2 separate regions of the Homo sapiens genome follow, and region 2 is linked to region 1. Evidence: fine-mapped expression QTL. Tissue or cell type: whole blood. Region 1 holds a variant in brackets; the other region holds the start of a gene. All regions are shown on one strand. Distances are between the middles of the regions.

Region 1 (10,177 bases):
CAAATGTAAAAACACTAGCGTAGCCTGCTGGACATCTGTATGGGGATGGAGTAACTGGGATCGATTGACACCCCTGGTTCCAACAACCAAGAAAGCCGACAAAGTGCAATGAAATTGATATCAGGATCCCGGACACCAGGCAACTCAGGACAGATCCTTGAAAGAAGGAAACAAACGGCGTGGACTCTATAATTGCCCTGGCTGCTGCCTTAAAAGAACGTGCAGGATGAGCTGCAGAGAGGGGAAACTGAGGCAGAGCCCAACAAACCCCTCAGTTGAGGAAAATGAGCAGAGAATCTGGGGAACAAGGCACACAGTCAGAGTTTTAAAATTCAAAGGGCAGAGCAGCGAAGAGGAGAGAGAGGACCCTGAGTAGAGGGAGGACCCTGAGTAGAGGGAGGACCCTGCAGCCCGCAGGAGGCCCTGGAGTGTTCAGCAGAGCACCATTCAGCACACCTGGGACAAAACTCCACGAGGCTGGGGAAGAACCGTCTGAAGAATTAAGAGGGACCAGGACCTGGGCCTCACACAGGACTGGGCATGGTGCCTGTTCTCCTCAGCCAGGCTGGAAAAACTCAGAGGTCACAGGAAGCGGGGGCAAGCTTTCAGAAGGGTCTTGCCACAGTCATGGGGAACCATTGGTGTGAGGCAGACGGGTCTCCAGCAGACCTGTCTAACAAATCATAAAAGCAAGACCCAAGAGGATTAAACTGTCTCCAAGTCACTGAACTGTGCCCCAGAACAAAGCTCAAGAATATTTATAGGAATACAAAAATATCCAATACCCAACAAGGTAAAATTTACAATGTCTGGCATCCAATCAAAGATTATGAGGCATGCAAAGAATGCAGGAAAGTATGGCCCATAACAAGGAGAAAAATCCATCTACTGAAACCGGTCCAAAACTGACACGGATGTTAGAATCAGCAGTAGAGGACATTCAAGCATGGTGATCATAACTGTATTCCATGTTCCAAAGTTAAATAGACACACAGAAGATATAAACAAGAACAAAGAGCCGGGCGCAGTGACTCACACCCGTAATCCCAGCACTTTGGGAGGCCAAGGTTGGCAGATCACCTGAGGTCAGGAGTTTGAGACCAGCCTGGCCAACATGTCAAAACCCCGTCTCTACTAAAAATACAAAAAATTAGCTGGGTGTGGTGGCACGTGTCTGTCATCCCAGCTACTTGGGAGGCTGAGGCAGGAGAATCATTTGAACCTGGGAGGTGGAGGTTGCAGTGAGCCGAGATTGTACTACTGCACTCCAGCCTGGGAGACAGAGTGAGACTGTCTCAAAAAATTAACAAATAAATAAATAAATAAGAAAAAAGAACAAAGTCAAACTTCTGGAGATGAAAATTATAATGTATGAGATAAAAAATATGCTGGATGTGATTCACAACAGGTTAAACATCGCAGAAGAAAAGATTTATGAACCTGGAAATGCAGTTGACCCTTGGCCAACGTGGGGATGAGGGCCGCTGACCCTCCATGCGGCTGAACATCCACATGTCAATTCCGACTCCCCACAGCTTTAATAGCACACTGTTGACCAGAAGCCTTACTGATAACAGAAACTGTTGATTAACACATATTGTGTATGTTATATCTATTAAACACTGTATTCTTATAATAAAGTAAGCTAGAAAAAAGAAAATGTTATTAAGAAAATCATAGTAAAAGAAAACAAGTCTGGGCACAGTGGCTCACGCCTGTAATCCCAGCACCTTGGGAGGCTGAGGCAGGCGGATCACAAGGTCAGGAGTTTGAGACCGCCCTGGCCAATATGGTGAAACCCCGTCTCTACTAAAAATACAAATATCAGCCGGGCGTGGTGGCGGGTGCCTGTAGTCCCAGCTACTCGGGAGGCTGAGGCAGGAGAATCACTTGAACCCGGGAGGTGGAGGTTGCAATGAGCTCTGATCATGCCACTGCACTCCAGCCTGGGCGACAGAGCGAGACAACTCAAAATAAAAAACAAAAAACATATTTACTATTCATTAAGTGGAAGTGGATTATCACAAAGATCATCCTTGCTGTCTTCACATTGAATACACTGAGGAGGAGGAGGAAGAAGAGGGGTTGGTCTTGCTGTTTTTGGGGTGGCCAAGGCAGAGGAAAACCTGTGTATGAGTGGATCCCACAGTTCAAACCTGTTTTTGTTCAAGGGTCAACTGTACAGCTATAGAAGCCATCCCAAGTGGACCATCGAGGGAAAAAAAGAGTTAAAAAGAAAAAACAGAAGGAAGAAAGGAAGGGAACCAGCAAACAGTGGGACAACCTCAAGTAGCCCAATCATGGGTAACACATGGGAGAGGCTGTGCCAGAAAGATTACTGGAAGAAATAATGGTTGAAAAATTTCCAAATTTAATGAAAACACCTGAGGTCAGGAGTTTGAGACCAATCTGGCCTACATGGCCAAACCCTGTCTCTACTAAAAATACAAAAAAAATTAGCTGGGTGTGGTGGCGGGCGCCTGTAATCCCAGCTACTTGGGAGGCTGAGGCAGGAGAATTGCTTGAACCTGGGAGGCAGAGGTTGCAGTGAGCCGAGATCGCGCCATTGCACTCCAGCCTGGGTGACAGAGCAGAACTCCATCTCAAAAAAAAAAGAAACTAAAATCAAGATGTTTCCAGACATACAAAAGCGGAAAGAATTCATCACTAGCAAACCTGTACTACAAGAAATGTTAAAGATTAAGTCCTTCAGGCAGAGGAAAATGAGAGCAGATGGAAATATGGACCCACAGGAAGAAGCGAGAAGAACCAGAAGCCACAGCAATGTGGGTCAACAGAAGAGACTGCTTACTGTTTATTAAGTACACATTAAAACCTAAGTGGTCATTTAAATAAAAATAACAACGTATTATTAATTTTATTACATATATGAACATAAAATGTATGAAAACAACTGCATAAAATTGGGACTGGCAAAAAAGGTATATAATTGTACAGTTCTTACGCATGAAGTAGTATATTACATCTCTTGAAAATAACTGTGTCACAGCTTGCCAGGAGTAAAGAATAAAATAAAAAAGAAAGAAAGAAACTGTGGTAAGTCAAGATGTACCTCTGCTACCCCTGACACAGCAAGACCAACCCTTCCTCCTCCAATACATTTATGATGATCCCCTTTTACTTAACGAGTTGTAAAACCCTAAAGTAATCCCTCAAATAACAAAACAAAGAGTTATAATTAATACATTAACAGAGGGCCAGGCGTGGTGGCTCACACCTGTAATCCCAGCACTTTGGGAGGCCCAGGTGGGCAGATTGCTTGAGACCAGGAGTTTAAGAGCAGCCTGGGCAACAGAGTGAGACCTCATCTCTAAAAGAAAAAAAAATTTTTTTAAATTAACCAGGCGTGGTGGTGTGCACCTATAGTCCCAGCTACTCAGGAGGCTGAGGCAGGAGGATTACTTGAGCCCAGGAGGTCAAGGCTGCAGTGAGCTATGATTTCACTACTGTACTTCAGCCTGGGTGACAGTGAGACCTTGTCTCAAAAAAGAAAAAATCAGTTAGAAAAACAAACAAACAAACAAACAAAAAAATATATATATATATAAAAAAAATCAGAGATGATAAAATGGAATCATAAAAAATGCCCAATTCAAAAAAGATAAAAATAGATATAGAGGGGAAACAAACAGCTGGGGCAAATTAAAAAATAGTAAAATGGTAAATTTAATCCTACTGTGTCAATAACCATATTAAATGTGAATGGTATAAACAGTTCAGTTAAAAGGCAGAGATTGTTAGACTGGATAAAAAGCAAGACGACGATATGCTGTCTACAAAAAGTACACTTTAAAAACATAGGCAGGTTAAAAGTAAAAGGATGGATAGAGCTACACCATGCTAATGCTAGTCAAAAGAAATAAAAAGTGACCATATTAATATCACAGAAAGTAGATGTAAGAGTAAGGGCAGTTACTAGGGATAAAGAAAGTAATTTCACAGTGATAAGGGATCAACTGATTAAACTACATAAAAATCCTAAATGTGTATGCCCCCAATAACAGAGCCCCAAAATACATGAACCAAAAATTGAAAGAAAGAAAAGCAGAACATTTTTTC[A/C]TGTGTTTTTTGGTGCATAAATGTCTTCTTTTGAGAAGTGTCTGTTCATGTCCTTTGCCCACTTTTTGATGGGGTTGTTTTTTTCTTGTAAATTTGAGTTCATTGTAGATTCTGGATATTAGCCCTTTGTCAGATGAGTAGGTTGCAAAAATTTTCTCCCATTTTGTGGGTTGCCTGTTCACTCTGATGGTAGTCTCTTTTGCTGTGCAGAAGCTCTTTAGTTTAATTAGATCCCATTTGTCAATTTTGGCTTTTGTTGCCATTGCTTTCGGTGTTTTAGACATGAAGTCCTTGCCCATGCCTATGTCCTGAATGGTAAAGCCTAGGTTTTCTTCTAGGGTTTTTATGGTTTTAGGTCTAACGTTTAAATCTTTAATCCATCTTGAATTAATTTTTGTATAAGGTGTAAGGAAGGGATCTAGTTTCAGCTTTCTACATATGGCTAGCCAGTTTTCCCAGCACCATTTATTAAATAGGGAATCCTTTCCCCATTGCTTGTTTTTCTCAGGTTTGTCAAAGATCAGATAGTTGTAGATACGCAGCGTTATTTCTGAGGGCTCTGCTCTGTTCCATTGATCTATATTTCTGTTTTGGTACCAGTACCATGCTGTTTTGGTTACTGTAGCCTTGTAGTATAGTTTGAAGTCAGGTAGCATGATACCTCCAGCTTTGTTCTTTTGGCTTAGGATTGACTTGGTGATGCAGGCTCTTTTTTGGTGCCATATGAACTTTAAAGTAGTTTTTTCCAATTCTGTGAAGAAAGTCATTGGTAGCTTGATGGGGATGGCATTGAATCTATAAATTACCTTGGGCAGTATGGCCATTTTCACGATATTGATTCTTCCTACCCATGAGCATGGAATGTTCTTCCATTTGTTTGTATCCTCTTTTATTTCACTGAGCAGTGGTTTGTAGTTCTCCTTGAAGAGGTCCTTCACGTCCCTTGTAAGTTGGATTCCTAGGTATTTTATTCTCTTTGAAGCAATTGTGAATGGGAGTTCACTCATGATTTGGCTGTTTGTCTGTTATTGGTGTATAAGAATGTTTGTGATTTTTGTACATTGATTTTGTATCCTGAGACTTTGCTGAAGTTGCTTATCAGCTTAAGGAGATTTTGGGCTGAGACAATGGGGTTTTCTAGATATACAATCATGTCATCTGCAAACAGGGACAATTTGACTTCCTCTTTTCCTAACTGAATACCCTTTATTTCCTTCTCCTGCCTAATTGCCCTGGCCAGAACTTCCAACACTATGTTGAATAGGAGTGGTGAGAGAGGGCATCCCTGTCTTGTGCCAGTTTTCAAAGGGAATGCTTCCAGTTTTTGCCCATTCAGTATGATATTGGCTGTGGGTTTGTCATAGGCAGCCAAAAAACACATGAAGAAATGCTTACCATCACTGGCTATCAGAGAAATGCAAATCAAAACCACAATGAGATACCATCTCAAACCAGTTAGAATGGCAATCATTAAAAAGTCAGGAAACAACAGGTGCTGGAGAGGATGTGGAGAAATAGGAACACTTTTACACTGTTGGTGGGACTGTAAACTAGTTCAACCATTGTGGAAGTCAGTGTGGCGATTCCTCAGGGATCTAGAACTAGAAATACCATTTGACCCAGCCATCCCATTACTGGGTATATACCCAAAGGACTATAAATCATGCTGCTATAAAGACACATGCACACGTATGTTTATTGCGGCACTATTCACAATAGCAAAGACTTGGAACCAACCCAAATGTCCAACAATGATAGACTGGATTAAGAAAATGTGGCACATATACACCATGGAATACTATGCAGCCATAAAAAATGATGAGTTCGTGTCCTTTGTAGGGACATGGATGAAATTCGAAATCATCATTCTCAGTAAACTATCGCAAGAACAAAAAACCAAACACCGCATATTCTCACTCATAGGTGGGAATTGAACAATGAGAACACATGGACACAGGAAGGGGAACATCACACTCTGGGGACTGTTGTGGGGTGGGGGGAGGTGGGAGGGATAGCTTTAGGAGATATACTTAATGCTAAATGACCAGTTAATGGTTGCAGTACACCAACATGGCACATGTATACATATGTAACTAACCTGCACATTGTGCACAGGTACCTAAAACTTTAAGTATAATAATAATAAAATTAAAAAAAAAATAAAAGCAGAAATAGGCAAATCTTTTGTTTGTTTGCTTGTTTTGAGACAGGATCTTGCTCTGTCACCCAGGCTGTAGTACAGTGGTGCGATCTCAGCTCACTGCAACCTCCGCCTCCCAGGTTCAAGCAATTCTCCTGCCTCAGCCTCCCAAGTAGCTGGGATTACAGGTGTGAACCACCATGCCTGGCTAATTTTTGTATTTTTAGTAGAGATTTTAGTAGAGATGGGGCTTCACCATGTTGGCCAGGCTGGTCTCAAACTCCTGACTTCAAGTGATGTGCTCGCCTCAGCCTCTCAAAATGCTAGGATGACAGGTATGAGGCACTGCACCCAGCAAGGCAAATCTATCATAGTCAGATATTTCAATATGCTACTCTCAATAACTGATAAAACAAGCAGACAGAAAATCAGCAAGGACATAGTATACATACATACACAGAATATCAATAATATCAACAAAATACATAGAAAAATACATAGAAAAATACATAGAAAAACACATAGAAAAATACATAGAAAAATACGTAGAAAAACAATAATATCAACAAAATTGACCTGATTTATAAAATATTGTACACAACAAAATTCACATTCTTCTCAAGTGCACACAAACTCTTCCCGAAAATTGAAGAGAGAATTTTTCCCAATTCACTCATTCTATGAGGACAGCATTACCTTGATAGCAAAACTAGACAAAGACATTACAAGAAAAGAAAATTTCATGCCAATATCCTTCACGAACAGGGATGCAGAAATTCCCAAAAAAACTTTAGCAAACTGAAGGACAAGATAATTCATTGCTCTATCAAAAAAAAAAAAAAAAAAGAAAAAGAAAAAAGGCCAGGCTTGGTGGCTTATGCCTGTGATCCCAGTATTTTGGGAGACTGAGGTGGGAGGATCGCTTGAGCCTGGGAGTTTGAGACCAGCCTGGGCAACATAGTGAGATTCTGTCTCTACAAAAAAAAAAATTACAAAAACAAACAAAAAGATAATTGGGGAAAGAATACTCTTTTTAACAAATGATCTTAAGACAAATAGATACCCACATTCAAAGGAATATACAGCAGTTGGACCCCTTCCTTACACCAAACAAAAAGATTAATACCGAACGGTTCACAGTCCTAAATGTAAGAGCTAAAAATATGTCATTTTTTTTTGAGATGGAGTCTTGCTCTGGGGTGCAGTGGCGTGATCTCGGCTCACTGCAACCTCTGCCTCCTGGGTTCAAGCAATTCTCCCTGCCTCAGCCTCTCAAGTAGCTGGGACTACAGGCACCCGCCACTATGCCCAGCTAGTTTTCGTATTTTTTAGTGGTGACAGGGTTTTGCCACGTTGGCCAGGCTGGTCTTGAACTCCTGACCTCAGGTGATCCACCTGCCTTGGCCTCTCAAAGTGCTGGGATTACAGGCGTGAGCCACCGTGCCTGGCCTAAAAATATAAAATTCTTAAAAGAAAACACAGGAGTAAATCTCCATGACTCCAGACTAAGCAAAGTCTTCATAGATATGACATCAAAAGCAACAAAAAGAAAAAGAGAGAATTGGGTTTCATCGAAACTTAAAACTTTTGTGTTTCAAAGGACACCAGCAAGAAACTGTCTGACTGCCCACAAAATGGAAAAATGTATTTGCAAATTAGATATCTGATAAGGGGCTTGTGTCTAGAATATGTCAAGAACTCTTACGACATCTTGATGCAGAGCAGGTGAGCTCTACAGCAGGGCTTAGCCTGTGAGGGTTCTTGGCTTTGGCCAGGGAAGGATTTAAGGGTGAATGGGAGGTATGGAAGCGGCAGGGCTACAGCTCCTGCAGAGCGGGGCTGCCCCCCAGGCAGAAAGCAGCAGCTCAGGGCAGTGTCGCAGTCATATTTATACCCACTTTTAACTGCGTGCAGATCAAGGGGTGGTTTATGTGGACATTTCTAGGGAAGCGGCAGTAACTTTTGGGTCATCAGGCCATTGCCATGGAAAGGGGTGGTAACTCCCAGGTGTTGCCATGGTGATGGTAAACTGGCATGATGCGTTGGTGGGCGTGTCTTATGGAAGGCTGCTTCCTCCCTGACCCTGTTTTATCTAGTCCTCAATTTGGTCTTGTGTCTGAGCCCCACTTCTGGAGTCAAGTTCTGCCTCTTATCTCCATTTCTCCAACTAAGATCTACAAATGGCCCATAGCACACAAAAAGATGCTCAACATCATTAGCCTTTAGGGAAATGTAAATCCAAACCACAAGAAGGCACCACTTCACACCCACAAAGATGGCTACATCCAAAAGACAGACAGGCCAGCACGGTGGCTCATGCTTGTAATCCCAGCACTTTGGGAGGCTGAGGCGGGTGGATCACAAGGTCAGAAGATGGAGACCATTCTGGCCAACATGGTGAAACCCTGTCTCTACTAAAAATACAAAAATTAGCTGGGCGTGGTGGTGGGTGCCTGTAGTGCCAGCTACTTGGGAGGCTGAGGCAGGAGAATCGCTTGAGCCCGGGAAGCAGAGGTTGCAGTGAGCTGAGATTGCACCACTGCACTCCAGCCTGGACAATAAAGCAAGACCCAGTCTCAAAAAAAAAAAAAGGCGGGGGGCAGTGGCTGATGCCTGTAATCCCAGCACTTTGGGAGGCCGAGGGTGGTGGATCAAGAAGTCAGGAGATTGAGATCATCCTGGCTAGCAGGGTGAAACCCTGTCTGTACTAAAAAAATACAAAAAAATTAGCCGGGCATGGTGGCAGGCGCCTGTAGTCTCAGCTACTCAGGAGGCTGAGGCAGGAGAATGGTGTGAACCCAGGAGGTGGAGCTTGCAGTGAGCCGAGATTGAGCCACTGCACTCTAGCCTGGATGACAGAGCAAAACTCAGTCTCAGAAAAAAAAAAAAAAAAAAAAGAAGACAGACAATAGCAAGTACTGAGGAGGGTGTAAAGCCATTGGAACCCTCTTTCATTGCTGGAGGTAATGTAAAAACCTTGCAGCTTTTCATGTTCAGACTGAAAAGGAAGAAGTAAAACTGTATTTATTTATAAACAATATGATCGTATATAGAGAAAATCTTAAGGAATCCTCTAAGAAACTAGTAGAACTAATAAATGAGTAAAGCAAGTCAAAGGAAATGAGGTCAATATGTAAAAATCAATTGTAGTCTACGGCAACCTCTGAAATGAAGTTAAGAAAATTCTACTCATGATGGCATAAAAAGAATAAACAAATTTATCAGCATTTAGAAATAATTAATAAAATAATTATAATTCAATATCTAATAAATAACATTATTATGTATTAATAGCTTTCACAAAGAAGTGCAAGATGTGTGCTGAAAGGAACAAGACGCTGGTGATAAAGTAAGAACTCTACCTAAATGGAGAGATGCTTCTGTGTTCATGAGATGGAGGCCTCAGTGTTGGTAAGATTTCATCTGGACATTCTCTCCAGAGGGGTTCAACGCACCTCCATCAACATTCCAGCAGCCTTCTTTTGTTGTTGTTGCAGAAGTTGGCAAACTGATCTTAAAATTTTATACAGAAATGTAAAGGTCCCAGCAGAGTCAAGATCATTTTGAAAAGGAAAAACAAAACTGGAGGACTCTCCAATTGGAAAACGTGCTAAAAGCAACAAGAATCCAGATAGCGTGGCCCTGGCATAGACTGAGGATAAATCAGGATAGACAGATCAGTGGAGCAGACGGGGGGTCCAGGCATCAACCCTGACTCTTAGGGCTGACTGATTTTCAACCAAGGTGCCAGGGCAACTCAACGGCAAAAGGACGGTGTTCTCAACAAATGATGCTGGGATGATTGAACATCCCCATGAAGAAAAGATGAATTTAGAACTTTATCTTTTCCATAAAAAATAACTCACACTGGATCCCAGGCCTAAATGTAAGAGCTAGAACTATAAGAGTTCTGGAGGGATACGAGAAAATCTTTGTGAAACTTGGGTTAGGCAAAGA
Region 2 (8,155 bases), 26 kb after region 1:
TGAGGCTCTCCCAGAACAAACTGTCCAGAGAAGGTGTCTCCTGCATGTGGACAAGGAGGAGGGGAGACAGGAGGTTCAGTTCAGGGCTGCGGCCCCAGTCGGCTCTCCTCTGTCCCTGGCCCATGACACGCAGGAACCATTCCAGAATGGACGTCCCTGCCTCCATCATACTACTCAGTCTGCTTCATGAGGGAAAACATGGTAAGCAGGTCTGGTCTCCCCAACAGCTGGGCATGCAGACAGCCCCAGGCAGACACTCTCTTTGGGCATCTATCCCGAGGGCAAAGGACCCTCTGGTCGGTTTGCAGGGTGAAGGGTGAGGTTTTTCCCTGGCTCTTTAAAAACTGAAAGCCAAGCCTGAGAGAAAACACCTCCACTGAGAACCCACCGACCCCTCTGGCGTGAGGGTCTGAGGTTCCTGGACACACAGCTCCCGGCAACGAATCCCCAGAGCTGGTTTCCCATCTAGGGATACAATGTGGCTGAAATAGCTTTAAATAAAAAAGAAATAGTGTAACTTGGGACAGATAAATCTTTATTCTAGAAAAGTGTCTCCGGAAGCCTGAGTTGCTCTCAGCGGTGACCACAGAGCCTCAGTCAGGTCCCCAGGGCTTCTCGGTAGGCCAGGCCTCTCACGGCACAAAGCTTCCCGTCTACACGTCACGCCTTCTGCATCTAGACTCGGCGGACCAACTGAGCCCGATGGGTTATGAGAAAGGAGTGAATGTGCCATCCCAGCTAGAGCTCACCTGACCAGGCCCAGTGCCGGCGGCCTTCTCCCGTGATCTCTCCGTCCACAAACGCCCCTTCGTAATAACTGCCATCTTTAAATAACAACTTCCCGTGACCTGGCAGGAGAAATCGTCACGTGAACTCAGACAGTGGTTGGGTTGACTGCGAATGACACTGTGCAGTGTTGGGCCTGTTTCTCAGAACCAAGAGCTTGGCTTCAAAACTTGTGTTTGGCTCCATCACTCATGCTATACATGTATTTAAAAATAAAAAAATGTTCTCAAAAATATCTGCCGAAACACGCTTGAGCGGCCGGCGCCTTCAGCCAGAACAAGCACAGGAATCGAAGTGCAGGCAGCCAGCCTGAGCAACACGGAGAGACCCCGTCTCTACACAAAATTTTAAAAATTAGCCAGGTGTGGTGGTACGTGTTTGTGGGTCCAGCTGCTCAGGAGGCTGAGGTGGGAGGATCCCTTGAGTCAGGAGGTTGAGGCTGCAGAGAGCCATGATTGCATCACTGCACTCCAGCCTGGGCGACAGAGCAAGACTGTCTCAAAAAAAAAAAAAAAAAAAAAAAAAGAGAGAGAGAGAAGAAAACTAGGCAGAGTGGCTGGGCGCAGTGGCTCATGCCTGTAATCTCAGCACTTTGGGAGGTTGAGGTGGGCAGATCACCTGAGGTCAGGAGTTCGAGACCAGCCAGGCCAACATGGCAAAACTGCATCTCTACTAAAAATACAAAAATTAGCTGGGCGTGGTGGCAGGTGCCTGTAATCCCAGCTACTCATGAGGCTGAGGCAGGAGAATCACTTGAACCTGGGAGCCGGAGGTTGCAGTGAGCCGAGATGGCAGCATTGCACTCCAGCCTGGGCAACAAGAGCAAAACTCTGTCTCCAAAAAAAAAAAAAAAGAAAAAAGAAACAAAACTGGCAGAGAGCAGATACAAAACTGCGTGAGAGGAGTACAGTGGCGGGAACGTCCACACCACCAAAGGTTCACGGCACTTGCCTGGGGTTGGTGGGGGTACAGGTGTTATCGACTTTATACTTGCTTTTTTTGTTCTGTTTTGAGACGGAGTCTCAGTCTGTCACCCAGGCTGGAGTGCAGTGGCACAATCTCAGCTGACTGCAACCTCTGCCTCCTGTGTTCAAGGGATTCTCCTGGCTCAGCCTGCCAAGTAGCTAGGATTACAGGTGTGCCTTACCACAACCAGCTATTATTGTCTTTTTAGTAGGGTCAGGGTTTCAGCATGCTGGTCAGGCTGTTCTGGAACTCCTGACCTCAAGTGATCCGCCCACCTTGGCCTCCCAAAGTACTGGGATTACAGGCGTGAGCCACTGCGCTTGGCTTGACTTTACACTTTCTTTCTTCTATTACTTGGATTTACTACAAGAGTAGGTTCTCTTTATAATAGGAAATAAACCATAAAGCCAGTTTTCAGTCTGGAAAAGACAAATGAACTCAACCTCTAGGGAGAATTTCAAAGTCGCAGCTTCCTTTGCTAAAGGTGGCCCTCCAGGGGGGTCTCCCAGGCCTCTGTTTCCCCTGCCCATCCAGCCTTACCCTGAGCAGCCAGGGAAGCACCAGGGTACAATGGGCTCGAAAGCTACAGGAAATGCCACTTGCCCACCCAACCTCCCGGGGAGAAACTGGTTTCGTCAGCTGTGGGGCAGCAGCTGCAAGAAGAGACCACAGATGCTTCTCACCGTGCTTCCTCCCTGCTTTCCATTCTCCTTCATATCGAAAGAAGGAATTTGGGTATACGTAGACACCATAACCTGAGTATTGAGAAGACACACACAGGTAAGCACAGACACAGAGATGAGGGATGCTCTCCAGTGCTGAAGGAGGGAGTGCAGCTCCCTTGAGGGCCTTCAAGGGGTTGGTACACGTCACCTTCAGCAGACCAGAGGCGACCTGTGGGGCTCATGAGCTCTCCTGTCGACTGTTGGGCCATTCATTTGCTCATTTGTTTATGTGACAAGGATGAGGACCTACTTGGTGCAGAGAAGACAGGCCCAGTAAGAGGAGGGCTGGCTTGAAACAACTGCAGGTCCTTGAGAGACCAGAGGTGCTCGGGAGGTGGTGAGGAGCAGGTTGGGAGCCTTGTTGCAGGAGATGAGTGAGCCAGGGGAAGGCAGAGCGGCAGTGTCAGTGAGGCACACAGGGGAGGAGCAGACTCTCCCATCCCCTGCCGTGGCCCTTCAGTGGCCTCCTATCGCTGGGGAGAAAATCCACACTCATACCCAAGGATGGCCTGGCCGGCTTCATCTCCTCCTAGTTGCTGGGTGTGCCACCCGCCAACTCCTGCAGTTCCAGGAATGGGCAGGGCTCCCTCCCTACCAGCTCCTCAGGCACATTTTGTGGGCAGGGTTTATGGGAAAATGTCGGGGAGGAGGGCAGGGGGTTACTACAGGCTACTGTATCTGTCCCAAATCAGGGTCAGGTTCTACCTGAAGATAGTAGTGTTAGCTCTGAGTTCATTCCAGACCCGTTTATTTGATTCTAGAAACAGTTCCTATCAAAACCTGCTCTTTTTTTTTTTTTTGAGACTGAGTCTTGCTCTGTCGCCCAGGCTGGGGTGCAGCGGCGCGATCTCGGCTCTCTGCAACCTCCGCTTCCTGGGTTCAAGCGATTCTCCTGCCTCAGCCTCCCGAGTAGCTGGAACTACAGGAGGCACCACCCCGGGCCAATTTTTGTATTTTTTAGTAGAGACCGGGTTTCGCCATGTTGGCCACACTGGTCTCGAACTCCTGACCTCAGGTGATCCACCCGCCTCGGCCTCCCAAAGTGCTGGAAGTACAGGCAAAAACTGCTTTTGAAACGCGTCCTAGCGTTTCTGGACAGCACCGGCCAGGAAGTCAGGAGGCTTGGTGCTGCTCCTGCGCCTGCCCTCGCCCCAAGTCCTGGGCTTCGGGATCCCCATGGCAACCCCAGGTCCCGCTGGCTGTGAGGCTGCGGCCGGAACCCGGTCTTCCCGGCTAGGAGCCCGCGGGGGGCGACCCCCTGCAGGGCTTGGCCTGCTGCGGGAGGAGGGCTCGGGGAAGGGTGCGAGCCGAGCCCGAGGCGCACGGCGAGTCCTGTGGGAGTGGGGGACGCGGGGGCGGCCCTGGCTCCGCCGCGGCACCTGGACCTCTACTTTCCGAGGTGAGCATTTGGGGGTCGAGGGCGTAGAGCGATCGCACCCTGAATGGAGCCCAGGGCAGCCAGCGACCTGTCCCGTGGCCCGCAGTCGTTACCGTTCCGGGGCGGCCGCCTAGGCGGGTCCCGACGCGGCCCGCGGGAGCTCGGGGTGCCCTCGCCCGCCGCTGCCATCTTGCCGCCGAGGGTTCTCTTAGCGACCAGCAACGCCCGCTTCCATTGGTCTTTGTCGCAAGGGGGGGTGTGGCCACGGGCCTAGTCCCTGAGCCCGCGCAATCTCTGGAGCGAAGCTAGCCGGGCCCGGAGCCAGAGGACGCAGCTGCGCCTGTGCGCGTTTCCGCCGCTGTCGTCTCTTCCGCCGGGAGGCCCGCCCGCCAACGGCCTGCGCGTCTGCGCCGGAAGCGGAAATGGTTGGAGCCCTTGGCCCCGCCCTCGCGCCATCTTGGGGGCCCTGGAGGCGGCGCCGCGGAGGACGGAGCGGAAGTGCTCGCTGCAGCTTCCCGGAGCCGGAGCGCAGCGCCTGCGGCCGCCCGTGCCCCGCCGTCCTCCTTCCCGCGGCCGTGAGGGAGACCGCGGCTCGGCCGTAGCGGAGCTGCGAGGTGCCAGGAAGGGCTGCGTGGCGCGGGAACGGCCGGGCAGCGCCGCCTCCGCTTCTTCCGGGCTGTCAAGGCCGCGGGCGGGCGGGGCCGCGCTGAGGGCCGGGCGGGGAGGGCCGTCGGGGCCCGGGTGGCCGCGGGGACCGTGTTCCCGACCCGCGGCCCTGAGGGGTACGGGTCGCGCCTCGGGGTCGGGCCCGGGACGGGGTGCTGGGGGGTGCGGCGGAGCCCTGGGGCCTGCGAGGGTCGGGGGAGCGGGAGAGGGGCCGGGCGGGGGCTGCAGCCCTCGAGCCACCCGGGCCGCATCTCGTCCGCATCCCCTGCTTGGCATCTGGGGGAAGCGGGCAGTCGCGGCCCCCACAGCGCTGCGAGTTGGGCTGTATTCCAGAGTAATGTGCCCTGTCCCCATCCTGCGTCCAGGTCAGCGCTTATCTGTAGGATTTAGTGTTAAGCTCTGGGGTGAAGGCGTTACTGACGGGCTGAAGGGAAACTAGTTACATCGGTTTTGATCGTATTCTAAATAGGCAATAAAATCATAAATTCTCCAGGCTGACTTAGTACTGGTCTGTGGCCCCACTGATAAAGGTATCGTTCGTTTCTCTGCCAGGTGTCTCACAGCACAGAGGGCTGCTTTCAGCCTAAGTACCTTCAGTGGGCTTTTGCCCTTTTCCCTTTATGAAGAGTAGAGACTGGCCGCTAGTCCTGGAAGCACTTTATTTTTAGTTGAGTTGACATTTCCCAGGAAGATGCAGTTATCCCCGTAAGTGGATAAAGGGTTCTCAGTAATTCAGACTCTCACATGGCTTCTGCCGTATGCCTGAGGTGACGGCGACGGCGGTAACAGTGTGTCAGAGCCAGGTGGAGATATAAGATGGTCAGGCCCAGAGGAGCGGGGAGCCCAGGCTGGAATGTGGCCTTGGGAAGGAGGAAGAGACGGGGTCTGGGAGGGCATTTCAGAGGACTGAACAACACCAGAGGCGTGAAGCTTGGTGCACGGCAGCCGGGGGCTTTCTTAGTCCCGGAGGAATTGGGGATGGGGACGTGAAGAGAAAGGTGGGAGCCAGACTGTCAATGCTCCCGGACGCCAGGCAGAGGACTTCATCCTTTCCACGTGCAGAGTGATGGACCACAGATGTGGATGAATGTGACGGGCCTGGAACAAGGCACATAGAGAGTCTTACACTTTCTGGCACGTCCTCATGGTCTCTGCTTGGACTGGTTTTATCTCCCTTTCTGTTTTGTTTGTGACCAGGCATAAAGCAGTCACCTTCAACAGGTAATTGATGGGCTGTCTACTATGTAATGGACTTCCAGGTGGCAGGGCCCAGCCCCGAACCAGACAAGGGACCCCTCAAGGAGCTTCATTCTAGCAGGAGAAAATTGAGAAGTAAACCAGAAAGGTATCAGGAAACAGTTGTACACAAAATAAAAATAGGGTGATGTGATGTAAGGGACTGGGGGTCAGTGTGGGCGGTAACGGAGGCCTGTGAAGAGGAGGTGGGCTTCAAACTGAGCAGAGAAGAGGACTGCAGAGGGGGCAGCTGGTGTGAGGGCTGGCCCTGATCCAGGAACAGGGCTGGCACTGCCTTGCCCGGCTCCAAGGGTGCTCCACGGGCTGCCCACTGATTCCTCACGAGAGCCTTGTGGAGAAGGCATGAGAGGTGCTGTTGTCCCATTTCACAGACTGGAACCTGAGGCATCCTGGAATAGCCTGTCCTAGTCACACTGGCAGAGAGTGGTAGAGCCAGGATCTGAAAGCAGGCTGTTGGAGTCCAAAGTTCACGTTCTTGCTCCTGCCGCCCTGCCTCAGGCTATTCCTGGCAATGCGTTCAGTCAGGGTGCAAGCTGTGTTTGGTATACGTGTGTGTTTGGTATACGTGTTGTGTGTGTCAGACAAGCAGGATTGGCTGATGGCGTTTTGAGTAGGTTTTCTACATGTTCAGTTGGAGAGTGAGAAGTTCTGAGCTTTGCCTAGAGAACACCCTTTGGCGGGAGAGCTGGGTATTTTCTCCCTGACATTACTCTCATCACCTCCAGTCCAGTAAAAGTGCTTTAATGGGAAACAGTCTGAGTAAAACGGGGAAACTTACAAGGAGCTATAGGACGAACAATGTGACGGGTGGCTTTCAGATGGCCTGGCTTTGGCCTAAATAGGGTGGCCATTCCAGGTGACACATTTTAGTGTAGCCTCTATTTAAATATGGAGTTCTTTCAGTGGAGAGTAAAGGTGCTCCTCCTCTGTGTCTGGTTTACACGGCTCCGCGAGACCAAAGGGCCCCTCGGTCTCCTTGAGCAGCCTGGCACTCTGCACAGAGGATCCAGGAACGGTGTCATGGAGCCACATTCTGCACAGACTTGATGATGTGGAGGGAGCTGCCTGGATCACTTCAGCGCATCAGTTGTGATGGGAGAGCCAAGGCACTTGAGGGCGGGATTGCGTCTGGCCACCTGTTGCCTTCCACCTGAAGGGAAGATTTCCCCAGTGCTCACAGTGAGGATGGGACTGGAAAAGCGTTGGTTTCAGGAAGGTGCAGGTTCTGGCTCCTGCCCACTGCGAACATGCTGATGGGCCAGGGCAACTCTTTAGTCTTTGTGAGCTTCAGTTTTCTTATCTGTAAATGAGAACAATAAGACTGACCCCAACTGTTGCTGAGGAATGATGTCTTTGCTTTCATGTCTGGTATTTCTTAGAGCCTCATTTTACAGATGAGGAAACTGAGGCTGGCTGCGTGCTCAGAGGGTTTGCTGAAGGCCTCACAGCCGCTTAGCACAGGTGGGACTTTAAGCCAAACTTGAGACCAGAGTCTGTTTCTCCTCACTGCCCTGCCGAGGGAGCAGATGGGGGGTGGTGGGGGAGGTGAACGTCACCCCTGGCGTCTTCTCTAGCTCAGGGGCCAGGAGGCCTCTCATCTTTAAAGTAGGAATGACAACCGGCAGGCCCTGGGTACTGAGCTGTGCTTTACCGAAGAGCGGCAGGTCCTGACGCCGTCTCCTCTCAGGAGTGGGGTGGCGGCGTGCTCAGCTGAGGAGCCAGGTGGCAGTCAGGCTTGGCTTGGCCTGCCCAGAAGCAGGGCTGTGGCAGGACCTTGGACACGTGGCTTCCACTGTTTGAGACTTGGTGAAATGGGGGTCATGATGCCCTTCACTTGAGCATCTGGGAATTAAGTGGGTGAACAATGTGACCTCTGGCACCTGGGTTCTCAGGTGAATTCCTCATGGCATCACAGCAGTGTTGAAATAGGAGCAGATACGTTACCTCCGCTTGCCAGATAAGAAACTGGGACGCAGATGGATGGACTACCTGAGAGTTGTAGATAACATTTTCCTGTTCATGGGGTGGAGGACCTGGCCCTGAGAGGACAGGATCCCTCCTGCTCCTGCCAGACCAGAGACCCAGGACAGGGCGTGGAGCAGACAAGGTGCCTGGGCGGGGGAACCCTGAGGGATCCACAGAGGGTGCGGTCCTTGGAGGGAGGACATGCAGTGCCACGTGCCATGGACCAGCCAGTGGACCCCATGGCCAGCAAGGCTGCTCCTGGGGCCAGTGGGGTGGACAGTCCCGCCCACGCAGGTGACTGAGGTGCCAGTGTGGGAATGAAAATGCGGCCTGTGCTCCTGGGCCCATGCGTCTCACGCTGCCCTTCCTCTCCAGGGAAGCCTGTGTACCTGCTACTTTTTCCCGAACAATT

What was found. PIP is the estimated chance that this variant, and not a neighbour inherited with it, causes the effect.
Region 2: MORN1 starts here. The variant in region 1 is fine-mapped to the expression of MORN1 in whole blood (TOPMed, PIP above 0.99). The same link has a PIP of 0.9 or more in pancreas and tibial nerve.

Annotation. Positions count from the first base shown.
Region 1 is chr1:2,360,259-2,370,435 of GRCh38, forward strand. All of the region lies in intron 8 of MORN1 (MORN repeat containing 1), which reads right to left. Among named protein-coding and RNA genes, the nearest start is that of MORN1, 26 kb to the right of the region's middle. The variant A/C (reference allele first, on the strand shown) is at 4,081.
Region 2 is chr1:2,387,490-2,395,644 of GRCh38, forward strand. It overlaps MORN1 (MORN repeat containing 1), which reads right to left and starts at 4,065. Exons shown (of 14, transcript NM_024848.3): 1 at 3,969-4,065; 2 at 2,436-2,507; 3 at 750-848; 4 at 1-40. The coding sequence starts at 4,044. RER1 (retention in endoplasmic reticulum sorting receptor 1) reads left to right here and starts at 4,352. Exons shown (of 7, transcript NM_007033.5): 1 at 4,352-4,469. RefSeq lists enhancers at 572-621, 682-851, 962-1,081, 4,061-4,355, 4,224-5,096 and silencers at 1,142-1,311, 3,638-3,767, 3,928-3,997, 4,128-4,237, 4,338-4,637.